7 separate regions of the Homo sapiens genome follow, and all the other regions are reported to be linked to region 2. The links are microRNA targets in miRTarBase. Many come from high-throughput screens and were not tested one by one. Region 2 holds a microRNA gene; each other region holds the end of a gene's coding sequence.
Evidence for each region. The annotated mature microRNA hsa-miR-3180-5p reads CUUCCAGACGCUCCGCCCCACGUCG and lies in region 2 at 2,836-2,860, opposite strand. An mRNA with a match to its seed (bases 2 to 7 or 8) in the 3' UTR can be bound and repressed. Matches are read on the target gene's strand: a 7mer-m8 pairs with bases 2 to 8, a 7mer-A1 pairs with bases 2 to 7 and ends in A, and an 8mer does both.

Region 1 (4,068 bases), not on the chromosome of region 2:
GACCAGCAGAGGGCCTGTCCTGCCACCCAGGCCCTGGAGGAGCACCAGAAGCCCCCAGTTTCCATCAAGCAGGAGAGATGTGACCCAGAATCTGTGATCTCCCAGAGCCACCCCTCACCCTCATCAGAGGTGACAGGCCCCACTTTTACTGAAAACAGTGTCAAAATACACTTATGCCATTACTGTGGGGAACGTTTTGATTCCCGTAGTAACCTAAGGCAACATCTCCATACACATGTGTCTGGATCCCTGCCATTCGGTGTCCCTGCTTCCATTCTGGAAAGTAATGACCTTGGTGAAGTGCATCCCCTTAATGAAAACAGCGAGGCCCTTGAATGCCGCAGGCTCAGCTCCTTCATTGTTAAGGAGAATGAACAGCAGCCAGACCACACCAACCGGGGTACCACAGAGCCTTTGCAGATCAGTCAAGTATCTTTGATCTCCAAAGACACAGAGCCAGTAGAATTAAACTGTAATTTTTCTTTTTCAAGGAAAAGAAAAATGAGCTGTACCATCTGTGGTCATAAATTCCCTCGAAAGAGCCAATTGTTGGAACACATGTATACACACAAAGGTAAATCTTACAGATATAACCGATGCCAAAGGTTTGGTAATGCATTGGCCCAGAGATTTCAGCCATACTGTGACAGCTGGTCTGATGTCTCCCTGAAAAGTTCTCGCTTGTCACAAGAACACTTAGACTTGCCTTGTGCCTTAGAGTCAGAGCTCACACAAGAAAATGTGGATACTATCCTAGTTGAGTAGCAGCTTCTCTTTCAGAATTTTTATACCAATTCTGAAAAAGAAAATTTGCGTGGCATTTTTAATTCATAAATTATTTTCCTCCTCAAGTTTCATTGACTTTTTTTCTTCACAGCTTATCCATGGTTTTAAGGTTGTATATATTAGATCTTCTCATAAGACATATTAATATGTGGCTATTAAAATGTAACATTCAATTACTACTGTGAACTTTTCACAAACGAAATAACAATTTAGAAATCAGAAATCAATGTAGAAATATGGAAACCTTAAATAGTTATTTATAGAATTCTAAGTTTTTCCAGTTATAGAATCAGTAAAATCAAATTGAATATAAAGTAAATGAAATCTGTTTTAAAGCATATTCTAAACTATCACTTCTGCCTACATTTCACATGAATTCACTCCTACCAGGATTATTTTTAAATATTTTCTTCCATATAGGAAATTAATAGTTACTTTAATGCATAACTGTATGTTATACATATGTTATAATGTATAAAAATTTATTTTAAGATATACCAAATCATGAGTAGTTTTATTTTTTAACTACTAGCTCCACAACATCTTACCTACATGGCTTCTCTTTACTTTTTAACATTGAGTATACCTCTTTTTTTTTTTGAGACAGAGTCTCTCTGTGTCGCCCAGGCTGGGGCGCAGTGGCGCGATCTCGGCTGACTGCAAGCTCCGCCTCCCGGGTTCACGCCATTCTCCTGCCTCAGCCTCCTGAGCAGCTGGGACTACAGGCGCCCGCCACCACGCCCAGCTAATTTTTTTGTATTTTTTTAGTAGAGACGGGGTTTCACCGTGTTAGCCAGGATGGTCTCGATCTCCTGACCTCGTCATCTGCCCGCCTTGGCCTCCCAAAGTGCTGGGATTACAGATGTGGTATATCTCATTTTTAATAAAAAAAACAGTTAAAGGGAGAAGAGTCAGAGAGACATTAAAAAATATTTAAGAAACAGTAAGATATACACACATAGATAAATAAGCATGCAGAGACAGAGACTGAGCTAGAACTGCATTGACTAAAAACCCCAGGGTTGTTAACTTGGTCTAGAGTGTTTTCTTAGACACCTTAAAAAGTAATTTGAGATTTTATGACCAGAGGTTTACATGAGTTGAAAGAGAATGATGATAAAATATAAATCATGTTTCTACCCTCAGCGTCAGGATTTTTGGGGCTTCCTGGGTTGATTTTAATTTTCTAAAAATCACTGAAAAAGTAATTTTTCAGTGGCACAGTTTTCACTTTTTTCCTGATCCATAAAACCAGCAAAGTGGATACATTCAGTGTTCTATAACTACATTTAAGATCCATGATGTTAGCTTTTCCTCTATAAATCAACTTAACTCTCTTTTATAATGGTGACACTTACAAAGCTAAAACCCCAGGAAAATTAAAGTTGATGAAAGAAATAACAGATTCCCCGGCTCTATATACCTGGGAAATAGCTGGTTAAGCTTCACCACAAAGGATAGATCTAAATTGTTTCTGAAATGTTTAAATTTCAAACCCCGCATAGTCAAGGATAATAAAACAGACTCATCTTTTTTTGCCCTCTTGTTAAATTCTAAGCTTCACGGGCATTTGAATACATCTAAAAAATTTGGTTTGTGAGCCTTAGAATTTAACCACTTACAAAACTCTTGAGCTCCCTCCACTTCTGAGGACGTTTCCTGACACATTCAACAGCATCAGCGTCCAATCAGGAGGGAGCTCAAAGAGTAATCCAGCTAATTCTAAGGACACAAAGGTTTTCTCTAGGTAAACAGTTTAGGTAAATTACAAAGTGGTAAGTTTTTCTTGAGGATTGAATGAAGAAAGCTACTGGATATTGTGTAAGGCAGTTGAGTTTCTGCCTTAAACAAGTGAGTAAAGGCTCCTATGGTTAAGACTGATGTGTGTTGAGAGCACATCTAACTTGATAAGATCAATTGTATTGGGAGTAATTAAAACAAATGTATGTTCTTTGGGGTCAGAACTTTGTCTAATCTTAAACTTTTTTCTACCAATTCACTTAAGCAACTATTGAAATTTGTACTGCCCTCAAAAATATCATCTCATTGGAAGAACACAAGTATTAACATTGATTTTTTGTATTTTAGGCTAGTTAAGATATATTTCCTAGCCTTCTTCAATTCAAATTCTATTGTTCTTATTAAGATAATTTTTCTCCTCTATATTCTTCCCTGTTTGCCTACTCATTATTATTATTTTTTTAATTTAATTTTTTTTTAAGATGGAGTTTCACCCTTGTTGCCCAGGCTGGAGTGCAATGGCGTGATCTCGGCTCACTGCAATCTCTGCTGCCTGGGTTCAAGCGATTCTCCTGCCTTAGCCTCCCAAGTAGCTTGGGATTACAGGCATGCACCACCATACCCAGCTAATTTTGTGTTTTTAGCAGAGACAGGGTTTCACCATCTTGGTCAGGCTGGTCTGGAACTCCTGACCTCAGGTCATGCACCAGCCTCGGCCTCCCATAGTGCTGGGATTACAGGTGTGAGCCACCGTGCCAGGCCCACTCATTATTCTTTGACACAGGAAATCCTTGTATATAGCTAAAGGGTGGAGGTAGAGTTGTACATGGTTGGTTGGATAAGACAGCAAGTGCCTCAGGGCAGAGTTTGGATAAATGGTAAGAGTTTGCTAGCAGCTGATTGGCCGTGATAGACAACACTCATTTAAAGCAGAAATATATCTGTTCGTTGAGAGTTAAGAAAATAGTGGTTAACTGTATTTCTATTCTTATAGTTCCTTTTAATATTAGAAATTCAAAGCAAATGCTCTTTCCTTGTTCCTTAAAACATTCATTCTGTTTAGGAAGTGGGAAAATATCAACTTCATTTTATAGAAAAAAAATCCCAAAAGCTGAATTCCAGAGATGCAGTGAATAGTGGTGTGGGACTGACCCCCAGTTTTTGTTATTGTTGTTTTCATTTATTCTGCAGGCTTTTTTTTTTTTTTTTTTTTTTTTTTTTGAGACAGTCGTGCTGTGTCGCCAGGCTGGAGTGCAGTGGTGCAATCTCAGCTCACTGCAACCTCCGCCTCTCGAATTCAAGTGATTCTCCTGCCTCAGCCTCCTGAGCATGTGCCACCATGCCCAGCTAATTTTTGTATTTTTAGTAGAGACAGGGTTTCACCATGTTGGCCAGGATGGTCTCGAGCTCCTGACCTCATGATCTGCCTGCCTCAGATTACAGGCATGAGCCACCGCGCCCGGGTCTGCAGGCATTTTTTAAAGTAACTGTCATATGCCTAACACTGTGCCCTGAGTATTATTTTTTAAAGACATGATTGCT
Region 2 (4,068 bases):
GCCCCGGCTGTCCTCCACCTGGAACTGGACACAGCTGTCCCTGCTGAGCTTCAGCAGCCAGGGAGCCACAAGTGGAGAGGCACCTGCGTGAGCCCCCCAGGAAGGCTACTGGTGACACCCAGACAGCAACGCTCCTGGACCCTTGAACACCTGCCAGCAGCTGTGATCTGTGTCCTTCACCTCTCCCAGCTTGACCCCTCTTCCCTGGGGAAAACCCAGCCGTCTCCCCGAGGAGGAGTTTGCAGGGTAGACAGCAAAATGGCTGGGCTGCCCCACAGCACAGAGGGTGGCCTGGGGGGCCAGCCAGGGCCTTCACATCCTTCCTAGGGCCCTAGTTTCCCATGGGTCCCCTCACCCCACCTTCCAGAACTCTCCCAGCGGCGGCCCCAGGTGTGTACAGAACAGCACCCACCTGCCCACGAGGTCACCCTGTGCCCTGTTGCACACTTGAGGGGCCTGGCATTCGGAATCTTGCCAGCTCAGGCTGGGACAGGCCACCAACCCCCAGGGTCCCCCTCCTCCAAACCCCAGGACCAGAGCCTAAGAGGACAACACAAGGCAGGGGCGGGGGTTCCACTGCTGTGCCAAGGGCCTGGAGAACACGGGCCTTGCTCTCCGCTCAGCAGCCACCAGCGCCCTTCTCTCCCGGACAGCTCCCGAGGGGCTGCTCTCATGGACACCATCAGGTGCTGGGAAGCAGGAACCACCAGGACCTGGACAGAGTCCCCAGTGACCGGCCTGGCAGACAGAGGAGCCCTCAGCTACAGCATCACAAACAACGGGTGGGGTAGGTCTGATGCAATTCTGTGGGTGCTGTTGCCAGGCAGGAGGAGGCCATCTCCACAGAGACAGCCGCGAGACACACGCGTCCGCAGTCAGGGAGCGCAGGAGCAATGTGGCCCCGAGGGGCACGGGCTCCATTGGTCCAGGAGAACCCATTCTTCTCCCACCCTCGAGACCACCCAGCAAAGCCCCAAGGACACACGGCTCCCCTAAGGAAGGGTGGCCACAGGCGGGAGTGACCCAGAAACGTTACAAAACCAAATGCCAGAACCCATCCAATGTTTAGAAAGCCTGGGGATGTGCCACGTCCCCCAGGGATCCAGCACGCACCCAAAGAGACACTGTCCCGGCGAGGAGCCTGGAGCCTGGGAAATACAAGGCATCAGACTGGTACCAAGACTCTCCCCAGCGCTGGGGACAACTGTCTGCTTATCTTAGTCCCCTGCGCCCTTTTCAATCCAACCCTGGGTCCTGGGCACCTCATAGTTCCAAACCCCTGCTATGCACATCCCGGCTGTGATGCCTGGGACAGGTCCTGTCCTGGCTGTGATGCCTGGGACAGGTCGTGTCACCTCTCCAAACCTGTTTCCTCATCTGTGAAATGCAAATCTCCACGGTCCCTATGCCTCGGATGGTCAGAGTCAGGATTCCGCATGACGACCCCCAACAGGAGCCTGGCACAGACCTGGCTCTGGGCAGCGTCTCCATAAAGGCCACCTGTTGTTTTTATCTCCCGAAAGCGAACATGACAAGGCTTTAACCCCCCACGGCAATCCGCCCTCACCCCTGTTCTCAGGATAGCCTTGGAACCCAATAGCAGAGCGCCTGAGGCCCTTCATGACCCCAGCCCACCCGCGAGCCCACCTCCCACCCTGCCCCTACCCCTCACACCTCCCGTGGCCAGCCTCCAGCCTCACGGTCTTTGCTCACACCGTTCACCCCCCTTCTTCTGGACCCACCTCATCGCCCCTTCCTAAGCATCAGCCCAATTCTTGCACATCCATCAAATCCTTGTCCAGACACCTCCTGGAACTCTTCCCTGCAGCCCCCTACAGCCATCCCCATCTCTCCGGGTACCCCGCAGCCCCAGGCCGAATCCCAATTCCTCTCCAATTAGCGACTGTTTGTCCTCCCAGCTGAGCGCGGCCTCCGCGCCCCGCCCCCGCTGGCGTCCGCAGAGCCCCCGGGTGGGACGTCTGTCTCCAGACCCGGGGTTTTTCGGCTCCCCGGGGCCGTGCCAACCGCGGCTCCAGGCGTTCCTTATTTAGCAGGGCCGCTGTGCCGCGCCGGAGCCTCGCCCTGGGAGCGTCCTGGCCCGCGTCCTGCTTCCCGTCCCGGGCCAGGGAACGCGCCCACGCCCGCCCGTCCCGCGGCCTCTCCCGGGTGCCGCTGGGCCCGCTACTCACAGCGCTGTGGCGTCCGCGGGGATGCGCAGCGCGGGACCGAGCGTCCGCAGCCCGCGGCCCGCGGCCCGAGCAGTTGACGCGGCAGGCGGCGCCGGGCGCTAGGCCGCAGAGGCAGGGGGGCTCGCAAGGCCCGCAGCCGCGCCCGGGGCCCCCCGCCAGCGCCCCGAGCCACAGGCCCAGGCCCAGGGCCAGCGCCAGGCGGGCGGGCGCGGCGGGCGGCATCGTTAGGGCAGCGCGCGCATGGCCCCGCCGTCCCCAGGCCCGCCCGCGCGCGGAGGCCGCGGCTCAGGCGGGGCCGGCGGACGGCATGGCGGGCGCGGGGCTGGATGGGGCTGCGGCCGCGACCTGCTGCTGAGCGACGCCCGCTCGGGGCTCGGGGCCAGGCCGCTCCGGGAGCTCGGCCGCCCGCTCGGACGTTGGCGCTGCAGTGCGGGCCCCGCCGCGGCTCCTCCTCCTCCTCCCCGCGCGGCGCAGGGCGGACGGGGCGAGGGGGGGCGGGGCGGGTGCAGGCTCCGCCCCCTTCGCCACAGCGCGACCGGGCCAGCGATGAGGGACTGGCATCCGGAGGCTTCACCCTCCGCTCCACAGGGTCGGCAGCAGGGCGGGGCCTCCGGAAGCTCCGCCCCACGCTTTCCCGGGGCGCATGCGACGTGGGGCGGAGCGTCTGGAAGCTCCGCCCGTCGCACTGTAGAGTCGGCCGAGGCGCACGAGGTATTTTTCACGCTCCGCCCCTCTGCAGGCTAAAGTGCGTGGGCGGGAAGCGGTGGGCAGGGTGCCATCTGGCTCCGCCCTTCTCCTGTGGTGTGGGCCAGGCGGCGGCTTCCTCCTCCTGCAGCAGCCACAGGCTCCACTCTGATCCTTCTCCCGCGGCATGGATCCTTCTCCCGCGGCGTGGATCCTTCTCCCGCAATCTCCGTGCGCGTCCCCAGTCAGTACCCGCAGCCTCCCGACGCACCCGCTGGCTCCAAGCCTCCCTACCCCAGGTTTCCTGGCTAAGAGAGAGACAGAGGGAGAGAGGGGGAAGAGAGAGAACAGGCAATGGGAGGTTGATGGTGAGAGCTTATTGAAAGACAAGAGGGAGGAAACCCACATCCTTCATTCCCCATCCATTCATTTATTGCCTTATTTATTCCATTGAATCTTCACAGCTCTAGAAAAAGTGTGCTACAATTATTCCCTTTATTAAATGAGGTCACTGAGGCACAGTTTAAGAAATTTGCCAGCAGGGCACAGTGGGTCACTCCGGTAATCCCAGAACTTTGAGAGGGGGAGGAAGGTGGATCCCTTGAGCCCAGGAGTTGGAGACCAGCCTGGCCAACATGGCGAGACCCCGTTTCTACAAAAATTAGCCAAAATTAGCCAAACTGGCTCACACTTGTAGTCCCAGGTACTCGAGAGGCTGAGGCCGGAGGAGCGTGTGAGCCCAGGAGGCAGTGGCTGCGCTGAGCCGTGATTGTGCCACTGCACTCCAGCCTGGGCAACAGAGTAAGACCCTGTCTCGAAAAAAAAAAAATGGAAAAAAGAAAAAAAGAACTGGCTGGGAGTGGTGGCTCATGCCTGTAATCCCAGCACTTTGGGAGGCCGAGGTGGGTGGATCACCTGAGGTCAGGAGTTTGAGACCAACCTGACCAACAAGGTGAAATCCCATTTCTACTAAAAATACAAAAATTAGCCAGGCGTGGTGGCAGGTGCCTGTAGTCCCAGCTACTAGGGAGGCTGAGACAGGAGAATAGCTTGAACCTGGGAGGCAGAGGTTGCAGTGAGCCGAGATTGCACCACTGCACTCCAGACTGGGCAATACAGTGAGACTCCGTCTCAAAAAAACAAAAAAAATCCTACCACATGTGCTCCACCAAGCTCTGTCTCCAAGGTGGCCTTG
Region 3 (4,068 bases), not on the chromosome of region 2:
AATAACTCAAATGTATGCACCATATGCCCCCCAGTTGAGTCTGGAACAGCAGACTAATCAACATTACTATAAATGAGATAAAGACTGTTAAGTAGCCTCGTGTCATTTCAGGTCAGGTTTGCCACAGAATGAGTTCTGATGTTAAATCTAGGGGAAAAAAATTGGTTGCCGGAACCTTTTGGGTTTTAGAATTGTGAATAAGAGATTGTTAATCAGTGTAGGATAAGACAGACATCTTAAATAAATGAGCAGGGGAAAGGAAAGCTTATCTGAACAAACTGTGCAGTGGTTAAATTGTCAAGTGAACAAATTGTCAAGCAGTTAAATATTTAGGGAAAAAATGTACATTGACCCTTTTTTCATATCAGGTACCAAAACAAGTAACAAATGGATTAGGAGCTAACTCCTAATTTTACCAAATCAGGAAACACAAACCTAGAAACAGGTGATGATATAGGTGAATATGCCTCTGGAAATGGATAAGCATATGCTATGCAAAAAAATGACAATTTGCTGGTAGAAATGTAAATTGACGCAAGTTTAATAGCAGCATATGGCAAAATGTACTGAGATCCTTAAAAAAAGGTACACTAACTTCTTGATTTGGTAATTCTACTCTCTAAAATTTCTAAGGAAATAGTTAACATAAACAAATGTTTATAAAAATGCTCACTGCTGTTTTTGTTTGTAATAGCTAAAAAAAGGAAAAAGCTTTATATTATTGGAAGTAAAAGCAGCAGCTGGATGAGGTGGCTCACATGCCTGTAATCCCAACACCTGGGAGGCCGAGGCAGGAGGACTGCTTGAGTCCAAGAGTTTGATATCATCCTGGGCAACATAGTGAGACCCCATCTCTCTGAAAGACAAAAACAAAAAACAAAAAACAAAAAAACCAAAAAAACCCAAAAAACTGGGTGCGATGGGATATGTCTGTGGTCCCAGCTACTCGGGAGGCTGAGGTAGGAGGATCACTTGAGCCTGGGAGATCGAGGCTGCAGTGAGCCATGATTGTGCCACTGTACTTCAGCCTGCAACAGAGTGAGACCCTCTCTCAAAAAAAAAAAAAAAAAACAAAACAAAAAGCATTAGGAAGCTATATGTACCATGTGTTCAACAATGTAGATACAAATTTACGAAAAAAAGACAAAAGTATGACAAAATGATAACATTTATAAAAAGAAAAAAGTACACAATGAGTCCATTGCTTAAAGGAAGCAGCAAAATAACTAATAATAAAGTCAAAACTTATGTAATTTCAGAAAGCTGGGCCTGAGCCTAAAAGATGATGACCAGAGAAAGGATGAATGCAGAATATATAGTAATATGCTTTTGAAATTACTCCTAATAGTCATGACATGTAGCCTTTGCATGAATGCTGATGGATGCTTTTCTTATGCGCAATTTCAACACACTATAGTTCTAATATATCCAGGGCTAAATCTGTAACAAGATTTTACTTAACAACACTTCTCAGATTTGGCATACACTGACTGCATTAACCTCTAAGTAATATCCAAACAACAGACTGGATCCTCATATGTAATTATAAAAACAGCCATGGATTGTTGTAGTATACATCAACCCTGAAATGCAGTCACTGGGCATTTAAGTATTCAAATAGGTTACCAGGTACAATAGTATAATTAAGTTCAGGACCTGTGGACTTTTAAGGTAAAATGGGGATATGATTTTGCTCTTGAACATAAAAGCTCCAAGTACAAGTTATCTTTCAACTTTACTTAGCAGTTCCTGGTTAGTTAACTATGAATCTTGAAGAAAGTAAACTTATTTTATTTGTATATGAATTTTCAGTGCTTAGTACATACAACTATGAATTGAATAAGAAGAAAACTGTGATTTTCAGCATTGTACAAACTCCCAAAAAGAACTGACTTGCAAAGGAATTTAATCAGTTTCTAAACAAGACTGCCAATGTAAAGTAATTCAAACTTTTGAAGTTAATGAAAATATTTATTCAAACCTAACTGTAGTACAGTCTCAAGCTGAGTTAAATAAACATTAACTATATGATATTTAGTTCCTTAGGAATAGACCACTGCCACACCATACAAATTTCTTACATCACAAGTTTTTGCAGTAAGGTTCAGCAATTAAGAAGACATGATTTCTACACTGAGAAATGTTGTGTTAAAGTTGGATGGATTTATTTTTTTAAAGGCCCAGTACAAAAAAATGGTTGAGGAAAGTGACTCTTCAACAAAATATACACCTGTAGAAAAAAATCCCTAATATACTGATATTTAATTGAACGGAAAGTACTAAAGAGAACATACTTTAATATCTAGGCACAATTGGTCAGGTACTAATTATAATTTCTGTTCTCATTTAAAAGTTTAAACCAATTCTTCAACTGGACTGATGTGTGTGAGTCTAATACAGAGAAGGCACCTCTCTCATCTCTCACTCTCCTTAAGGACCTTTTGAGAGAAACTCTTTGTAACACTTTAAGGGACACAGACAATGCACTATATCTAAGTATAGATATAGTTATTTAACATACCCATTGTAGGAGAAACTAAAATATAAAACTATGATTTCTCTTTTTACATCTTATGATGGACACAACACCAGAAGATAATCCTCCACATAAACTCTCACATAGAACACAAGATTTAAATTATATGTGCATTGGTCACTACAATGTAAAGAGTTCTATGAATTAGTGCAATTCTTTAAATCCCCAGCATTTAGGGGAAAAGTACATACCGAGAAATCTCTACTACAAACCAAAATTTTATGGCTCAATAGTCTAACCACTTAAAGTTCTGTAAAAAATCTTAAGTTATAAATGAAAGATCAGAACATTCAATAAATGGTTTACAAAATTCTCTCTTTAAAACAAAGAGAACAGAGTGATCAGAGTAGGTAAAGTGTGAAATTCCAGAAATATAATACTTACAGCAATTATAAGAAAGGGGTAGTATTCACTCTAGGAAAAAAACTCATCAAACTGTTGATTTCTAATTAGATATTTTGCTATCAGTTGAGGTGGTTATTATTTTGTAGTACTTAGTGATTGTGTATTTAAATGTCTTATTGAATAGTTACTGAAGGTAATTTATAAGAATAAGCATCATTTTCCTCCAAAACAAGTGAGAAACTATTCCAGATGAGTAAGTCTCAGAATTAGGGATCATAAGAAGTCAAAAAACACAGTGTAAGAACATTAGGTTGATTTAACCTCTATTTCAACAAGATTTACACAGTATTTACAATATGGAATTGTCAAAGCTATACAGTTTTGCAGATTGGCTTTACTTACATTTCTGCAAACGTTTTTCCCAAAATAAAAATATACCAAGTAAGTCTATTTACAAACTAGGAAGCTGTTTCAGAAACAGCATGATTTAGATATAAAGTGAAGTTTCAGTACAATGAAAGTGCAGGTCATGCTTTCAGATTCTGTCAATATCCCATTCCCTACACTCAGTTTAAGGGATATGAGTTTTTAACACCTACTGTTCTTATGTGTCCAGAATGTTTACTCATCATAATGCAATGATAACAAAAATTTGTCTACATCCATTCCTGCTGGAAATGAACTGGGAAGCTTCTTTTTCTGTTGAAAAAGAGAAAGAAAAAATAAACTCAAAACAAGGCCAAAATGCTTTCTTAGTAAGTCACCTAAAACAGTATATTGGGTTCTTTCACATACTACTAAAATTGTCAAACTTTTTTAGTCTATTAGAATTTTACTTCTATAGAGAAGTAGAGACAAGTTTTATAAACCCAAAGTTACTTAAATATACTTCAATGGCACCTGAATGTTAGTTTATGGCAAAAGACATGATACAAATCCAGAGTGTCTGAATGTTGAATGAGACAAGATAGAACATGCTTTCTATGTTAGGTGGTTATTACTGCTTAGAAAGCTTTACTAACAGATGTTTAGGGTTACAGGTACTTATCAGTTCCAAAACTTAATATACACTAGATACTTTATGTATACTACATTTAGACTTCACAACCTAAGATACCTGGTAATATCATGTCAAGTGATGAGGCTGAGACTCAGAAAGGCTACAGACTTAACCATGATCACAGGAC
Region 4 (4,068 bases), not on the chromosome of region 2:
GGCAGAACAAGACCCTGTCTAAAAAAAAAAAAACAGTATAAGTAAAATGCACTGTGCCTGGCTCATTGTAAGCACTTTGTAAATGATAGTTTTTATTAACATGCATTCATCAGTAAAAAGAGATTGTATAGGATTTCCAGAATGTTTTTTTTCCATTTTTATTCAGTGATTCAGGTGAAACCTGGGCTTTTGAGTCAGTTTGTATTCAAATCTCTGCTCTATCGTTTACTTGCTGTGTAACATTGGGCAAATGAACCTTTCTGTGCCTCAGTTACATCATCTGCAAAATAAGGAATATAACCTATCTTATAATGTTGTTTTCAATTCTAAAAGAATTATTTTTAGTACCTACTCTCTGCCAAGCATTAAGGTGCTAACAGTGTCTGCGTCTGAGGATTAAATGTAGAACTATATGAAGTACTCCCAACAATGTCCAGGCTTATGTTAAAAACTTAATAGATGGCTCAGACTTGATCTGTTTCTTAGAATGAGAGAATTAGTTATTTCTGGCTTTTATATAAAATGTTTAAATGTCTGTAATTTAGTATCTTGTTGCGTCTCTAATATTCCCAAGAGGCTCAAGGAGAGGAACTGTACAGCTATTTTCTGAATATACCTAGGCCCACTCTGATCCTCTGCTATTATTTTTCCAGTGTCACTGCAAAGATAAAAGCCATTGAAGCAAAACTGAAAATGATGGCGGAAAATCCTGATGCAGAGTATCCAGCAGCGCCTGTTTATTCCTACTTTAAGCCACCAGATAAAAAAAGGACTACTCCATATTCTAGAACAGCATGGAAATCTCGAAGATGATGGTTGTGAATTACTGTAGCAGCAAAAGCAAATTGGTCTCCACACCTAAAATCGTCTGCCTGTGTACTTTGTAGATGTGAATGGTACTATTCAACGGAGCACAATCACATGTTAGCATTTGGTAACATAATGTTTTTGGATGTTCTTATGGATGTTTCTTCCCTAAACTATGTATGGAATTGAGCATCATCCAGAATAAATAGCGTTGTATCCCAAATTGTGATTTGAACCCTGGGATGCTCTAATTGGCTGGTTGGTTTGGATTTGTAACTCCAGAAACATTCTATAGTGTGCCAGAGCAAAAGGCAAATACACAAAATATTATTTAAATCAGGAAACTAAAAATATTAACATCTATTAAAAAATTGAGCATTTTTCTACGCTCGTGTGTCTTTTACAACATAAAGAAAAAGTAAAAGGCAGGGAGGGAAGTGAGAGACAGATTTTAAATCATGTTCAGAACTGTTGTTCCAGAATTTACTACGGCAATCCCTCCAACTGGACTGAAAAAGAGAAAGTTCTTGGCAAAAAGGAGCTGATTCTTTGAACAAATGTTGTAGTAATCTGTTTAAGAATTATGCTTATTGTTTCAAAATCCCAACTAGGAAAACATGGTGTATATCTTAAAATTGTTTGTGTTGACAAAACTAGAATCAAATTTAACATTTTATACCACAACACAAGTTCTATTTGGAAATTGAACTTTTATTCTATAGCAACCATTTTTTTCAAATCTAAATAACCATGCCTTCTATAATAACAAATGTTGCTATTATCATGGGACTTTTAAAATTACATTTATTGCATGGGATTGTTTTTATAGCATGAGAATGTTCTGTTTGGAATTATATCATGGTCAGTCTAAATAGAAAAAGCAAAATTTCTTTGAAAACCTAAACATTGCTATATTGGTCACTATCAAACATACAATTTTCTAATAATTGTGTAGCGGTCTAAGTGGAAGAGATTGCATTATCTTGTGCAGGACGAGGAGAGGACATGCAGTGGGCACAGAAAGTCAATGGAACAGATGCCACTGTGGCACCAAGACTGTAATGACTCTGTGTGGTAGGTAGTTTTAAAGGACTGCATGCCTTGGAAATGATTCTTCACTTGGAGAACATACTTGCCTCTAGATATGTTTGTCACTCTAAGCATCCTGAATATAACAATAGAGAAAGATAAGTCAACCAACAGATTTAGGGATGTGTTTCTTCAGCACATTTTGGTCATTTTGATGCCAAGTTTGACATACTGTTTAATTGGGCAGCACCTTTGCTCCTTTACCAGGTATGTATCACTTTGTTACTCCAGGTGCCATTCTTGGTGATGACAGAATGTTTATCACTATCGTTGTTAGCAAGAGGAAGCTTTCAATATAGGAACTTAACATCTTCCCATGAGTATAAATGAATTTAAGACATTTGAATCAAAACTTCAGTAGAGGGAGGTTTTAGAATTCATAAAACTGGTTTAAGGAAATTCTTTTTACTTTTCCCAAGGTTAATCTTTTTAAATATCTCTAGACATCAAATACTTTCTGTATGTATTAGCTGTGTCTGTCTATGATGCAAGTAACTCTCCTCCTATTTGGGGGATAGTTCAGAGAGGTAGGAGCATTATCTCCCATTTTTCTGGTGACTTCTTGGAGTATAGAATTCACCATTTTATCCGTAAGTCTTCAAAGGATTATGGTGGACTAGAACTTACATAGTGCAAAATAGTCTTCTATTTTTAATAGGAACTTAGAAAAAACTTAGAATTATATATAGAGTTGTTTCCTTTAGAAACCAGAGCTATTTATTTGTATTTAAAGCACTGTTTATTATTTGTACTGATTCTTATCCCTCTGTGTGAATAAATGTAAGACGGTGTCCGTGTGGTTATATCTTCTCTCGTTCACTTACTGGCATAGACTGCAGTTCTCTGACAGGCTTGTTTCCACTCAGGACTCTGGCCAGCATGTCCACGTGGGGTGCTTCTTCTAAGTGCCTTCTCTGCAGAGGGTTCTGGCTAGAGAGTCAAACTGAGAGGCAACTCTCTTTACCCTTTATGCCTGCCTACCTCTGTTGTTAGAGATGAGAATAGAGACCAGCTGTTTCCATTGCAAATGTCACTATTTGAAAAGAAGTTGTTAATGGAAATCTCTGCAAGTATCGTACTGTGTTTAGTCTCTCGTGGTAGAGATTTCAAAAGAAGAAATGTATGTATCCTAAATATGCTGAAAGCAGTCTGATGAAAGGTTTTTAAATTTCAGGTGTTAACTTGGTCAACTCTTTGTTAGGAGGTTGTCTGTACTTTAAGTAAAATTATTCTTTGGTTTACTGGTTATTTTGGTTTGCTAAAATTATGTCACTTATAATTTTGATTTATATACAAGAGTGAAGAATTGAAGGAAATACTGAGGAGAGACGTATGAACTATTTTCTTCATCTCAATTCCTATTTTATCAAATGCAAAATGTAATCCTAACCAGTTGATTTTCTATAATTGGTATCTTAGTACTGGGGAGGAGTATCACATGAGGAAAGATTTTTCAAAGCATGTCAGCTGAGGCACAAGAATCGCTTGAACCCAGGAGGTAGAGGTTCCAGTGAGCCGAGATTGTGCCACTGCACTCCAGCCTGGGCAACAGAGTGAGACACCGTCTCAAAAAAAACAAAAACAAAACAGGTCAAAAATCAGTTGCACAAGTTGTATGAAACCAGGTATTCTGCAGCTCTGTCTCTTGTTTATTAAGATATGCACAGTTTCTGAATCAACAAATATATCTGTGATTCTTTTATACTACTACATAAAAGAACAGGAGTAATTCTTGCCTTATAAATTAAATGTCAAACATTTCCTATATGTAATCATTTGTTCCTAAAATATGATTTAGTCCCAGCATGCTTATCCCTGTTTTCTCTTTTTCTCTCCAGCTCCTATCTAGTTCTTCAACAAATCCTGTCAACTCTACCTTCCAAATGCCTCTTGAATCCAGCCATCTCACCACCTCCAACACTACCACCATTTTTCTTAAAGCCACCATCATCTCTTCCCTGGACTATTACAATACCTTCCTAATTATCTCCCTGCCTCTGCTATTGATTCTTTAGGGTCCGTTTTCCACACAGTAGCCAAAGCAATTTTTAAAAAAATTATTTTAAAATGTGATTCTCTTCTTTGTGGCTTTCCATCACAGCCTAGAAAAAATTGAAAGATCTGTAAGGCCCTAATGACCTGTCCTTCACTACGTGTCTGACCCTATAGCCT
Region 5 (4,055 bases), not on the chromosome of region 2:
AGATGATATTTAAATAGATATATTTTCTACAGGAATGTTTCCTGAAGAGTTTCCCAGGGACTACCTGAGCCAGAGTCAGGCAGAGTGCTCAATAAAATAAAAATGCACATTCCTGGGCTCAACCACAGACCCTCTGGAGGCCCAGGAATCTGTACTGTTAACAAGCTCCCTTGGGGATGCTTAAACATGTATTAAAGTTTAAATAATGTTACTCCATACTATTTGGAATTTCCCTTGCATCTTTCTTTTGACCACAAATATTTCATTATCTCTTTTACGCTTCTTACTAGCCAGAAGGAAAAACAGGCAAACAAAAAACCATTTCTGATTATGCCTGTAAGCAGTGAGAATTAGTAGTGGTATCTTTCCCTGCCTCAAGAAAATATGGGGGAATAGGCAACATATGATTTTGCACCTACGTTTCTCAAAGGTGCTCCATAGTACTTATTTTTAAAGCTTTCACAATGTATACATAATAAAAATGTTCAAAATGATTTGTAAACTCTCATCAGATCAAGATAATCCAGTGTAAAAAGAACTGCTGTTCAGTGTTGCTGCTGAATTCTCACAAAGACCCCTTCATAATCTTTGTTCACAAACAGGGAGCGTCTCGGCAGGCACTCCAGAGCTCTCACCAAATGAGGCACTGCCTATTAAGCAGCATGAAAGTACCTAAAGACTGCCCATAAAACAGGAACAAAGAAAACAAAGCTCAGTTTCACCTCCAGCCAAAAAGGAGTCTTCATGACCTATCAATATGTAAGATGAATACAGATCATGCTGACTTTCCTCAGAGAAAAGTCTAATAAAAAATGTCCTTATCAATATCTGCTTGAAATCTAGTTTATATGGAAAATGGAGAGCATAATACACTTCAAAATGCTACTAGTATCTACTACAGTGCTTATGTCCTATAAAATCCCTATGGACAAAAACAATTTTACCTGTGAATAAAAATTAGAAATGAAAGAGGTAGGTGACTATCATTTGAAGATAATCCCAAAACAACATGTTGAATAATATGCTTGAGTCCCCAAAGAGCTCTTTAACTGGACAATGAGTTCCAACATCGGTGCAATTTCCTTAAGAGCAGAGTTTCCCAGATATTTCATGATGTCTTCAACCTTTCAATGCCCCAACTCCTGATACAGTGCCACACTCTTCAGACATTTAATATTAAGAAATAGCTAATGAAGTAAAATGTAAAGAAGTAATACTGGAGACCAAAGGGTGAGGTGATGCTGAAGTCAGCTAGGCTCTTCAAAAATCTATACCCTAGTATAGAGGAAAGCACATTTGAGCTGGACAGGACGTTAGAGATTCATCTAATCCAACTCTCTGGTTTTACAAATGAAGAAATAGAAGCTTATTTTTTCCACTGGCTCACAAAACACTAACATCCTGAAAAGATGCTATAAATCCACAGTTAACTTACTTAATTAGTCAATGATGTAGCCAAGTGGCTATATTTTCAGCCCTTATCCCTGTGGGCTGTTTTATAAAGTGAGCCACTGGTAACAGAGAAGCTGACCAAGGCCCTAGATGCACCTGGGGGCAGACTGTCAGCAAGAGAAAAACAATTTGAAATGTCAGACATGCCCTATTAAAACTTGTTCTAGGCTCAGACGAGGGTTCATTTTCCCTTCTTTGTAGGAGACACACATCTGAGCACGTTCACAAACTCCAGCTCTGCTAGGGCAAGCATTGGGGCAACAATACTATTCTGCCCAGAACACTTACAACTAACACAGATGGACAACTGGAAACCTCCAAACCCGCAGGGGCAAGACCTACACATAGCTATCTTTAATTTCTCAATAATTGTCAGTCACTTGTTTTGCAAATCAAAAACAAAAAAAAAAATCACTGGTTTTGCTTCACAGCCTTATTTATCTAAGATTTTTAAGTCTCACATTAAAAAGTGGTTGTAGGTCAGATGTGGTGGCTCATGCCTGTAATCCCAACATTTTGGGAGGCCAAGGCAGGCAGATCGTTTGAGCTCAGGACTCTGAGACCAGCCTGGGCAACATGGTGAAACCTTGTCTTTACAAAAGAAAATACAAAAAAATAGCTGGGTGTGGTGGCACACACCTGTGTGTGCGTGTGTGTGTGTGGTTCCAGCTATTCAGGAGGCTGAGACAGGAGGATTACCTGAGCCTGGGAGGTTGAGGCTACAATGAGCCATGATCACACCACTGCACTCCAGCCTGGGTGGCAAAGCGAGACTCCAAAAAACAAAAAGTGGTTGTAAGTGATTTTATTTTTTCTTTTCTATTTTCCAGTGTTTCTGTAATGCTTTCATATTTCTTTTGGTAGTTAGAAAATAAAGGCTAATTTTTAAAAAGAATATCATAGTCTAAAAAATTAAAGGATGCATAGAGTTCCCTCTTGACTATGTGACATCTAAACTGAATGAACTGTCTGCGTGGCACAGTGGAACAGCGCAGTCTCAGGATTCTGACAGATTTTTGGATCCCAGCTCTACCACTAACCTTGGGCAGGATTTTAGTCCCTCTGAGACCTGCTTTCTTCACCTGTAAAAATGAAAACAATAATACCTACCTCACAACATCCTGTAAGGATAAAATGATGCACAGTGCCTGACACATAGGTGTCCATAAATATCAACCCCTTCTCCCTATACTCCACAAAAACCCTTGAGTAAAAGGAATCACCACAGCCTGTACCAGCCACTTGCCATCCCCCTCACTACATTCACCTTTTAAATTTGCAAGGATCCTGTCTCCTAGATTTTGCGCTATTGCTTGAAGAGTTGCTATTGTGCTTAGAAAAGTATCTACATTTTATGTTCTCTTTTACAACTGTACATGCAGATAAAACATTTCTTAAAACTATCTTCCCATAAATGATAATGCACATTTCCTAAAGCACATATCATGTATAAAAACAATTCTGAAAAATAAGACTGAATTAATTTGTACATTATCTCTTAAAGTGCACCAAAGTAAATAGTAATGACCCTTAAAATGTCGCTAACCTTCCTGGGTTAGTTTTTAAAATAAAACTAAATATATATTGATTGAGATGTTTGGCTCCAATGTGATGGTAAAAGCAGCAGTGTCTTCCAGAAAAAAAAAGTCTTGATAAACTCAAATAAGCATACCTTAGCAGCACACGAAACACCTACAATTCAATGTAACTGCAGGCTCAATAAAGCACAATCCTGATTCCCACTATGAAAACAAAATCAATCAAGGAAAAACCCCAAAACCAAAAAAAAGTCTCCTCACCCTAAATTGAGGATTTCTATTGAACCCTGGAGGTAATATTTGTAATCACTTTCCTATTATTTATTCTTGGTAACAGAACTATAATTACCATTCTTTCTTTACACTGCTCACACACATACATACACAAACCCTATAAAAAAAAATAAAGTGGAGAGGCTATGAGAAAGAGAATTCAATGTCAATAAAGAACAAGCATCACCCAAAATGTCAGCCAGTTCCAATATTCACACCACCGTCCGATGTTCCCCACACACATAGACAGCACTAGGACGTATCCGTCGCTTTGTGTGACCAGGGAGCTGCGGCAAAAACTTGAAGGACTTAGGCATCATGTCCAGGCAAGCATCATGGAATTTCTTAATCCTCCAGTAGTAGATCAGCGGATTCAATGCAGACTTGAGGTAGCAGAGCCACAGTAGCCAGGTGCTAATCTCAAAAAAGTTGTGCTGATAGTAAAAGTGCTTACTGAATGTTGCCACAAGGCTGTAAGTGGTGAATGGGGCCCAGCAGACAATGAAGACAGCAAAGAGAATCAAAATAGTGGTGAAGGCACGTGTTTTAAAGCCCATGTCAATGCTCATCTGGAAAGGTCTCTGCAGACTCATGAGACCCAGTTTGCTGGCCTGGCTGAGGCATATACCTTCAGGGTAGCTATGGATCCTCAAGGCATTGTGCCGAAGGGTGTTGAGTATGCCCATAAATGAGTACAGTATTACCAGGAAGGGTATGAAGAAAGAAATGAGAGAAATCAAAATCACATAAGCCTGGTAGCCTGGATTGGTTGTGTACCCAAACACACACTGG
Region 6 (4,068 bases), not on the chromosome of region 2:
AAATTAGCCAGGTGTGGTGGCAGGTACCTGTAATCCCAGCTACTTGGGAGGCTGAGACAGGAGAATCGCTTGAACCCAGGAGGCAGAGGTTGCAGTGAGCCGATATCACGCCATTGCACTCCAGCCTGGGCGACAAGAGCAACACTCCATCTCATAAATAAATAAATAAATAAATACACATATAAATAAAGCCAGGTGCAGTGGCTCATGCCTATAATCCCAGCACTTTGGGAGGCCGAGGCAGGTGGATCTTGTGAGGTCAGGAGTTCGAGATCAGCCTGGCCAACATGGTGAAACCCTATCTCTATTAAAAATACAAAAATTAGCTGGGTGTGGTGGCAGGTGCCTGTAATCTCAGCTACTCAGGAGGCTGAGGCAGGAGAATTGCTTGAACCTGGGAGCTGGAGGTTGCGGTGAGCTGAGAGCTGAGATCACGCCACTGCACTCCAGCATGGGCGACAGTGCGAGATTCCATCTCAAAAAAAAAAAAAAAAGAAAAGAAAAGAAAAGAAAGAAAAAGAAAGCACATTAAAAGAGACAGTTCCTGGTTTCCAGAGGGTATTATGAAAGGGCTTGAAAGGATGGTAAGAGCTGCATGCCTAAACTCTGACTGAGGTAAAAGTTGGTAACCCTGGGAGACTCCCGGAGAAAGGTGGGTGATCAGTTCAAATTATAGCTGAATGTTTATCTGAAAGGATGCAGGAACCCACTGTCAAGTGTTTATTCCTACAGCTCAAGGCAGGTATTAGCCTAGAAGATGGGTGATGGCCTCCTCAAGAGACTATAATCCTCGCCTGCCTGGGGCAAGAAATATGAAGCTCTCCTATATTCAGTTCTCTGGTTATGAGATGGCATCATATCCTTCCTTGAGATATACTCTTGAAGATCATAGTCTTCTAAGACAAAAAAGAAAGCCTATCTAAATAAAGAGTTTTAGGCACTATGACATGGTGGTGAAAAAATGTTTTGGTCAGAGAATATCTGCTCAGCAATATATAAAGCATCAACAATTCTGCTCAGGAATGATAGACCAGGCTTGTCCATGAATGCTACAAATCTGTTCCAGGCCTTCCAAACCCTGCTTGGAATGACCATGCAAAGGACTATTATATCACAAATTATGTGCAAACCACTATCCTATCAAAATAGGACAAAATCAGTAATTTTTTTTCACACAAATATACAACCTTCACCCTTCACTTCTTTCTTTCCGGTAACAGCAAGAAAGAAATATATATACCTTAAAACTAAATTATGAGGTACAGAGATAGGCCATAAACCCCATTCACAGAACACTGATAACATCTTCCCTATAAAACCATGGTCAAATATCAAATAATTGTTAGATACAATCACCTTTCATAGAGGCAGCTACCTGGGAAAACGCCAACTGGTCTTCCACTCACATACAGAACCACCATGGTGGGCAGAGGCACTTTGGTATAATGAAGAAAGCATGAATTTCAAAGTCAGATCTGAGCTCAAATCCTGGCTCCGACAACTTACTAGCCAGTCACCTAACCTCAATGACACTCAATTTTCTTGTATAATAGAGGGAGAACTAAATAACATATTATCAAAAATTCCCCAAACACTAATTCACTATGTGCATAAGACAGATAACAGTGGGCTTAGGGATTCACTGTATACACAGAGGAATGGCTGAGTTAAAAATAGGGAGATTCTAAGTGTTTCAGAGTGACTTTGAGCTAAGCACTTAAAATGTTTTAAATATTGGTGGAAGATGGGCTAAGACCTTCAAGGAGGACTGGTCATAAAGAAAGGCAGAGGAAGATAGAAAACATCTGTTGTATTGATTGCTCAACACCTCTCCGTCCCTTCTTCAGGGAAAGATTTTTCTCAGTGACAAAAGGAAGAAACCAGATGAGAAAGCCTCAGCTCCTTTTCCAGTTCCCAATCTGAAGGAGTTGTGTGAAGGCAAGATGCAGCTGTGGCCACTGTCTTGCCACCATGAGGTTATGAAAAATGAAAGTCAACATGCTGAAAATTATGGAGTTAAGAGAGAAGTGTGATGAAGTGCTGAGTTGCCAAACCAAACATAGCACTGCTTACCTCTAGATTCCCCTTAAGCAATCAATCAATGTTCTTAAGGTCTAGGCTGCTAGTACTTGGTATTCTGTTCAATACATCTGAAAATATCCTAAGTACTACCTTACACAAAAATTCTCTTTAATCACTCTCCCTAAAGTGTTTAGAAACACTGCTACAATGTCCTATACTTAAGATTTTATCATTTACCACGTGTCTGGCTTATCATATATTTCATGCATTACTCACTTAATCCTCACAACAACCTTGTAAGGTAGGTAATTGTTCCTTTTTTACACACAGGTCTGAGGCTCAGAGCAGTTAAGTGACTTGTCCAAAACTGACAAGCTAGTTCATGGTAGAACTGGGGTTAGAACATGGATATCTCCAACCCCAAAGTTTGTACTTTTAGCCTTTAAACTCTATATACCATGTGAAGGCAGAGTCTCCCACTAGTTTTATATTAACTGGTGACTGTATCTGAAGTTTTTGAGTCTACAGTTGTTTCAATTTCATTTTTTTCTGGTTGTGTAGACATATGTTGAAAAGATGAAGCCTAGGTAGTTCTCCATCATCTGCAGATCCTTCCAGAACTGTGGGAAAGGAGGGTTCAGTGAATTTTTGCTGTGTTCTTTTAACCTAACAGTGTTATTATATATTTTGTTGACAACTCTAAAGTCAGCTTGTCTTAAAACTAAAAAGGACAAAGGATCGGTGTTTATGATTTTACTTAACAGGAAACACGCTCTAAAAGGAAGGGACTTGCTCGCGGTTCCACTGCTGCTAAATGCCAGTGTCAGGGTGCAATCCCAGGGCTTTGGGCTCTATATACTACGTGCCTTTCATAACACTGCTGAGTGAAAATAAGCACGTCTTCATTGCATTTAAAAAATACTGTGCTTTTTTTCTTGCATATAAAATTAGTATATTCTCATGTAGATAATCTAGAAAGCATAGAAAAGTATACAGAAGAAAATAGAAATCACCTATAATCCTATCGCCCAGAGATGATCACTGTTAACATTTTGGTTTACTTCCTTCTCAATTTTTCCTATGCAAAAATATTTTTTTAAATTTTGGATTGTATGTCATTATCTTCCGTCTTATCCAATCATTTCCCCATGGCATTAAATTGTCTTTAAAAATGTTTGCAATGGCTGCAGAACCATCATATGGATAGCTCATCATTCATTTCAACCCTGTAATGTTGAAAATCTAGTTTTCTTCTTTCAGTCGTATATGATGCTGTCATGAACATCCCTTTCATTAATCTTTGTCTACTTCTAATTATTTTCTTAGAAGTAGAGTATGATTCTTAGAAGTAGAATTAAAGTTGATACTAAAGAACTACTTTTTAGAAAAGCAGCAGTCAGCCCTACTACCCACAATATTTGTTATTTATGAGGTTTCTTTCTCCTCATTATGTTTCCTCTGGTGTTGAATAAGCTGTGAACTATACCGATAGGCTTTCCCACACTCACTACATTTATAGGGTTTCTCCTTAGTGTGGGTTCTCAAGTGTAGAATAACTTGAGAAGTCTGCCTGAAGGTTTTCCCACATTCATTACATTTATAGGGTTTCTCTCCAGTGTGAACTCTCTGATGATCAACAAGGTTTCGATTAGAAGTAAAAGCCTTCCCACACTCATTACATTTGTAAGGTTTCTCTCTACGATGAAGTCTCTGGTGTTCATTAAGAGTTTTCCTTAAGATGAAAGTTTTTCCACACTCATCACATTCATAAGGCTTCTCTCCAGTGTGAATTCTCTGATGGTCCATAATCTTTGTATTAGAACCACATGTTTTCCCACACTCCTTACATTTGTAAACTTTTTTTCCTCTGTGCATTCGCTGATGTTGAGTAAGGTTTGAACTACGGCTAAAGGCTTTCCCACACTCAATACAAGAATAGGGCTTCTCTCCGGTGTGAACTCTGTGATGTGATATAAGGCCCGAACTCCGACTAAAGGCTTTCCCACACTCTTTACATTCATAAGTTTTCTCCCCACTGTGGATTCC
Region 7 (4,068 bases), not on the chromosome of region 2:
CCTGAAAAAAAAAAGTTATTGGAATGTTTTGATATCAGAATTTCTGGGGAACATTTGGATTTCCAGAATCTCTTTCACATCAGCTGTAATGTGAGTGTGGGCATAGAGCTGTCAAGTATTCTTTCTCTTTAGTACCAATATAATGTCCAGTAGCTATTAATTATTCCAAATCAAGTAAATTCTTGCTCTAGTATGTGTTAGAACAAAGGTTGAATTCTGATCAATATGACACTAATACCTGTGCCCTTAGGCCTTGCTCTAAAATGTCCTCCTTCCAATGCAGAATGACACATTGCCCCACCCTATTCCTTGACACTCTTTCGAAGGAATATTGGATGAAATCAAATCAATTTTCTATCTGGTGACTGGAGCTCTGGGCTGTGGTTGCGGAGATGGTCTGGTCCCCTCTCCTCTTCATATCCATCTGCTTCTGTTCTATAAGCCACCTTGGTGAGTTTGGAATGACACAGTTCTCTTGACGACCTGCCATAGCAAATCAGCAATATCTCAGGATTTGGGATCTTAACTAGGAACTGTATGCCACACATGTGTCCCTGCCCTGTGATCACCTCTCTGGGATGACATGGGTGTGTAAACAGAATATCCGAATAGATGTGATGAGTCCTGCATTGACATAAGCATGGAGAGTGTGAAATAGTCTCAGGAACATTAGACAAGGCTCCCTTGAGAAGGTGATTTCTAAAACCTAGACAAGAAGATGAAGAAGTATTTGTCCACACACTCCATCCTAATTTTTATGTGCCATTGCCAATTGGACGGAATATTATCAGGTGAAATAAGAACTGGAAAAATAAAGGGAGGGCAGGCCCACATTAGGAGTGGCCAATTGCCTTCTGGACTGTAGCGATGGATTGAAGGTCCAGCAACCCCACCCCAGGGAGACCCTCTCTTCTTTTGGGAGATCAGTACGTGAGTCCTGAGGGAACTGTTCAGTCATTTGCCTTATCCTTTCTGGCCTGCTTCCAGACTCTGGGGTCCAGATTCTGGGGTCCTCCCCTAAGCTGCACAACCTGCCTCCAGGACTGGAAGTTTTTGGATTTTACACTGCTGTTTACATAAAGTAGTATTGACTAGAATTTGCACAAATACATTTTATATTGAAAAATGATATAGAGTACTTATTATGAGCTGGAATCCAGTACTACTATGTGCTGGGTAACCAGGAGATCCGAGGTAACAATGTTTTCCCTCCATGATTCCAAGTCTGGCTGGAAAGACATTAGGGGAATCTGAAGTAATGTAGCCACTATGGTAAGAGTGGGGTCATGGTGAGGGAGGCACAAATGAAGCAGAGATCATTTCTTTGGGGTGAAGGGATGGTGGTTCACCCTCTGAATGTCTAAGAGACACTGACATTAAAGCTCAGCCTTGAAATGTAATGTTAATGAGACAGAAGAAGTATTAAAAGACATTTCTGGTAGAGGCAGTAGTTTAAAAGATTGGTATTGAGACATGAAATACTGAGATATATTGATGGGGGGTATGTTGCGCATTCGGGGAATAACAGCAGCAAGGTGAATAGGAGGGATTCAGAGAGTGCTGCACAGAGAGGAAGTCAGGCACCCACACTTTTGGGACCCTGGCATGACGGTTCTAAGCAGTGACCAGCAGTCCCGGTGGAGGAGAGAGGAGGACAACAGGGGAAGATGGTTCTGGGCTGGAGATCTGCAGGGAAGGTATGGCCCAAGGAAAGTGGGCAACAGAGCTAAGAGAGGAAAGAGAGCAATTCTGGGGTGGATGATGGAGGGCAGGCTGCATAGAGAAGGCAGCAGGGGGCTGGGAGGAGAAAATGAAAGCCCAGGGACTGTAGGTCTCCGTGAGTTCCAAGAACAGGTGGAATGAGAATGAGAAAGGGAGAGAAGGAAAGAGAAGAAAACTAATGGTCAGACATGGGGATTTAGAGGTGAAAATGGCAGATCAGTCCTGAAGGCTGACGAGGTGCAGAATATGTTCAGGAAGGAATGTTCCTGATAAGGAGAGGAGATGCTGGTCTGTGAATAGAGGTGTGAGTGTGGAGTGGAGCAGTCATTCCAAAGAACAAATAGCCCATCTTACACACTGCTGCTGGTAGGATGGAAAGAGAATTTTTGAGATGTTTGCCTGATTCCTCCAAGAAGAATGTTTGCCTGATTGAGAGGTTAGCTGGAGACTGACCAGAGTAGTAAGAGTGATAGGGACACATGATGTGAGCCTCAAGGAAGAATACTAAGAGCGGCTGCACAGAACATTGCCTGGAAGTGACACCAGGTGAACACTGACCCTGTGTTGTGGCCTGCATGGAGAGACCCGCCAGTGCACTGCTAGGACAGCACTGTGTCCTGCCTGTTTCTGCATCCTCAGCCCATAACACACTGCCTGGCCTGGAGTAGACTACCAATAACAAACTACTCCATTACCTGCGAGATAGAGGTGCTGCAATTTCTCATCACAGTCAGCATGAGCTCTCTGTGTCAGTCCTTACAGAATTTCCGTGATGCTGCCTTATTCCAGCCAGACTGCTTACTTGGACTCCTGGACCACTTAGAGCTCCTCAAAATCTGGAATATTCATTCATCACCAGAAACCCAGTCCTGGCATTGAGCAAACCATCATTTAGGACAGCTAAGCATCACAGTGACTCCTTCTCACTTCCACAGGGTCACCCACATAGGCACATGCACACAAGCACACAGCACAGGGAAAGGACACTGCCCCTGGAGCAGAGGCCACAGGACAAGGAAGCCCATCCTCAGGGCACTGCTGAGCCTCCCATTCATAGCCCCAAGGGCGCTGAACCTGAAGCCATCCAGGAATCCCTATGTGAGTGGTTTCTGTTTCCCCAAGCCCTGGAGAACAGCTGGGGCAGGAGTGGGAGGGCAGGAGCACACTGAGAGATGCCAGCTCCTTCTCAGTGCAGTATCTGAATGTGTCTGAATGACCCTGGTCCATGCCTTGACAAGGAGAGCATTGCTGTGACCTGGCAGGGGCCTTCTACCAACTTCCACCTGGAACCTGCCAAGGTGGCTGCATTTAGGGAACGGTGCAGAGGCAGACACCAGGACCTGTGTGAGAGGCAGATCAGCTCTGCTGGAGGCCATAGGGGGAACGTTGCTGGAGGGACATTACTCCTGGGTGACCCACTGGATGGGGGTGGGGGAAATTCTCCAACAAAGTTAACCTGGAATTGGTAGTTTTGACAATGTAGGTCACCAAAGAGAAGAAGAAATAAGGCAAGTGTCTGGTGGGAGGAGACACTTATTGTTCCTGGGGTCTCTGGAGGCCCCTTGGTGGGGCTGGATCACTGGCTTCCCCCAGAACAGGGCGCCGCTCCATGGCTCTGCTTGTGGTAGTCTGCGGCTATGTCTCCCAGCAAGGACAGAAACTCAGAAAAATCAATCTTCTTATCCTCATTCTTGTCCTTTTTCTCAAAGACAGTGGCGAGGTAATGTATGCCCTTTTTGTCCTGTGAAGAGAAAAACATACAAAATAGAAAAATTCAATCACAAACAAGTTTTGGGCTGGGAGGGGAGAGGAGGAGGCAGAGATACAGACAAGTACCTAGATCTGCACAGGCATGGTCGTGGGGCTGAGAGCACAGGGTGAGTGGGTGAAGTTGGGGTGAGGACGTGAGTGTTATCCCTGGAGTTCTCTAAGGAGACTTTTTGTCTCACACCTCAGGATGGGAGGCAGGTCCTGTCCCGAGGCACTCTGTTAAGTGACCTTGGGGAGAGCAGTCCCCTGCCCCAGCCTCAATCTTGCCTGTTCCCAGCATTTAAGGGCACTGCCTACCTTAGTTCTACCCCAGGGCCTCAAAATTGGCCCTCATGCTTTGTTCTCTTCTTTCTCTGACCTCCTCTCCTTTCTTCTCCTTTTCCACCAAACTCATCTTCTGGGTTCCCTACTCTTGGTCATCTAGACCCTTTGGTACCTAGTAGCCCACAGGTTTTTTCAGATTTGCCAATGAGTTTTCTTTATTGCAAAGAGGGCTATTGATTTCTACTAGCAATGGAACTTCTAGTGCTTTCCCAGTAATCTCAGGGATGTTGATGTGGGGCCTTTGGGAAGCAG

Region 1: the mRNA of ZBTB25 is a reported target of hsa-miR-3180-5p. Seed matches in the 3' UTR shown: 7mer-m8 at 3,205-3,211.
Region 3: the mRNA of NPAT is a reported target of hsa-miR-3180-5p. Seed matches in the 3' UTR shown: 7mer-m8 at 3,125-3,131 and 7mer-m8 at 2,900-2,906.
Region 4: the mRNA of RBM18 is a reported target of hsa-miR-3180-5p. The part of its 3' UTR that is shown has no 7-base or 8-base seed match.
Region 5: the mRNA of GPR63 is a reported target of hsa-miR-3180-5p. Seed matches in the 3' UTR shown: 7mer-m8 at 3,084-3,090 and 7mer-A1 at 2,276-2,282.
Region 6: the mRNA of ZNF660 is a reported target of hsa-miR-3180-5p. Seed matches in the 3' UTR shown: 7mer-m8 at 2,635-2,641, 7mer-A1 at 1,905-1,911 and 8mer at 549-556.
Region 7: miRTarBase lists S100A7A as a target of hsa-miR-3180-5p. Seed matches in the 3' UTR shown: 7mer-m8 at 982-988 and 8mer at 60-67.

The regions. Positions count from the first base shown.
Region 1 is chr14:64,483,620-64,487,687 of GRCh38, reverse strand. It overlaps ZBTB25 (zinc finger and BTB domain containing 25), which reads left to right. Exons shown (of 3, transcript NM_006977.5): 3 at 1-4,068. The coding sequence ends at 765. Among named protein-coding and RNA genes, the nearest start is that of ZBTB25, 18 kb to the left of the region's middle.
Region 2 is chr16:18,399,395-18,403,462 of GRCh38, forward strand. MIR3180-3 (microRNA 3180-3) reads right to left here and starts at 2,877; the gene lies at 2,784-2,877. It overlaps LOC112268172 (a long non-coding RNA gene), which reads left to right and starts at 585. Exons shown (of 3, transcript XR_002957900.2): 1 at 585-787. It also overlaps the pseudogene PKD1P5-LOC105376752 and the pseudogene PKD1P5.
Region 3 is chr11:108,155,440-108,159,507 of GRCh38, forward strand. NPAT (nuclear protein, coactivator of histone transcription) reads right to left here. Exons shown (of 18, transcript NM_002519.3): 18 at 1,776-3,580. The coding sequence ends at 3,503. Among named protein-coding and RNA genes, the nearest start is that of ACAT1, 36 kb to the left of the region's middle.
Region 4 is chr9:122,238,629-122,242,696 of GRCh38, reverse strand. RBM18 (RNA binding motif protein 18) reads left to right here. Exons shown (of 6, transcript NM_033117.4): 6 at 654-4,068. The coding sequence ends at 813. Among named protein-coding and RNA genes, the nearest start is that of LHX6, 12 kb to the right of the region's middle.
Region 5 is chr6:96,794,997-96,799,051 of GRCh38, forward strand. GPR63 (G protein-coupled receptor 63) reads right to left here. Exons shown (of 2, transcript NM_030784.4): 2 at 1-4,055. The coding sequence ends at 3,476. Among named protein-coding and RNA genes, the nearest start is that of GPR63, 40 kb to the right of the region's middle.
Region 6 is chr3:44,594,569-44,598,636 of GRCh38, reverse strand. It overlaps ZNF660 (zinc finger protein 660), which reads right to left. Exons shown (of 3, transcript NM_173658.4): 3 at 1-4,068. The coding sequence ends at 3,448. All of the region lies in intron 2 of ZNF660-ZNF197 (ZNF660-ZNF197 readthrough), which reads right to left. The region is part of intron 2 of ZKSCAN7-AS1 (ZKSCAN7 ZNF cluster antisense RNA 1); the gene reads left to right. Among named protein-coding and RNA genes, the nearest start is that of ZNF660-ZNF197, 12 kb to the right of the region's middle.
Region 7 is chr1:153,418,540-153,422,607 of GRCh38, reverse strand. S100A7A (S100 calcium binding protein A7A) reads right to left here. Exons shown (of 3, transcript NM_176823.4): 3 at 1-3,463. The coding sequence ends at 3,299. It also overlaps a transcript of S100A8 not described here. Among named protein-coding and RNA genes, the nearest start is that of S100A7A, 4.1 kb to the right of the region's middle.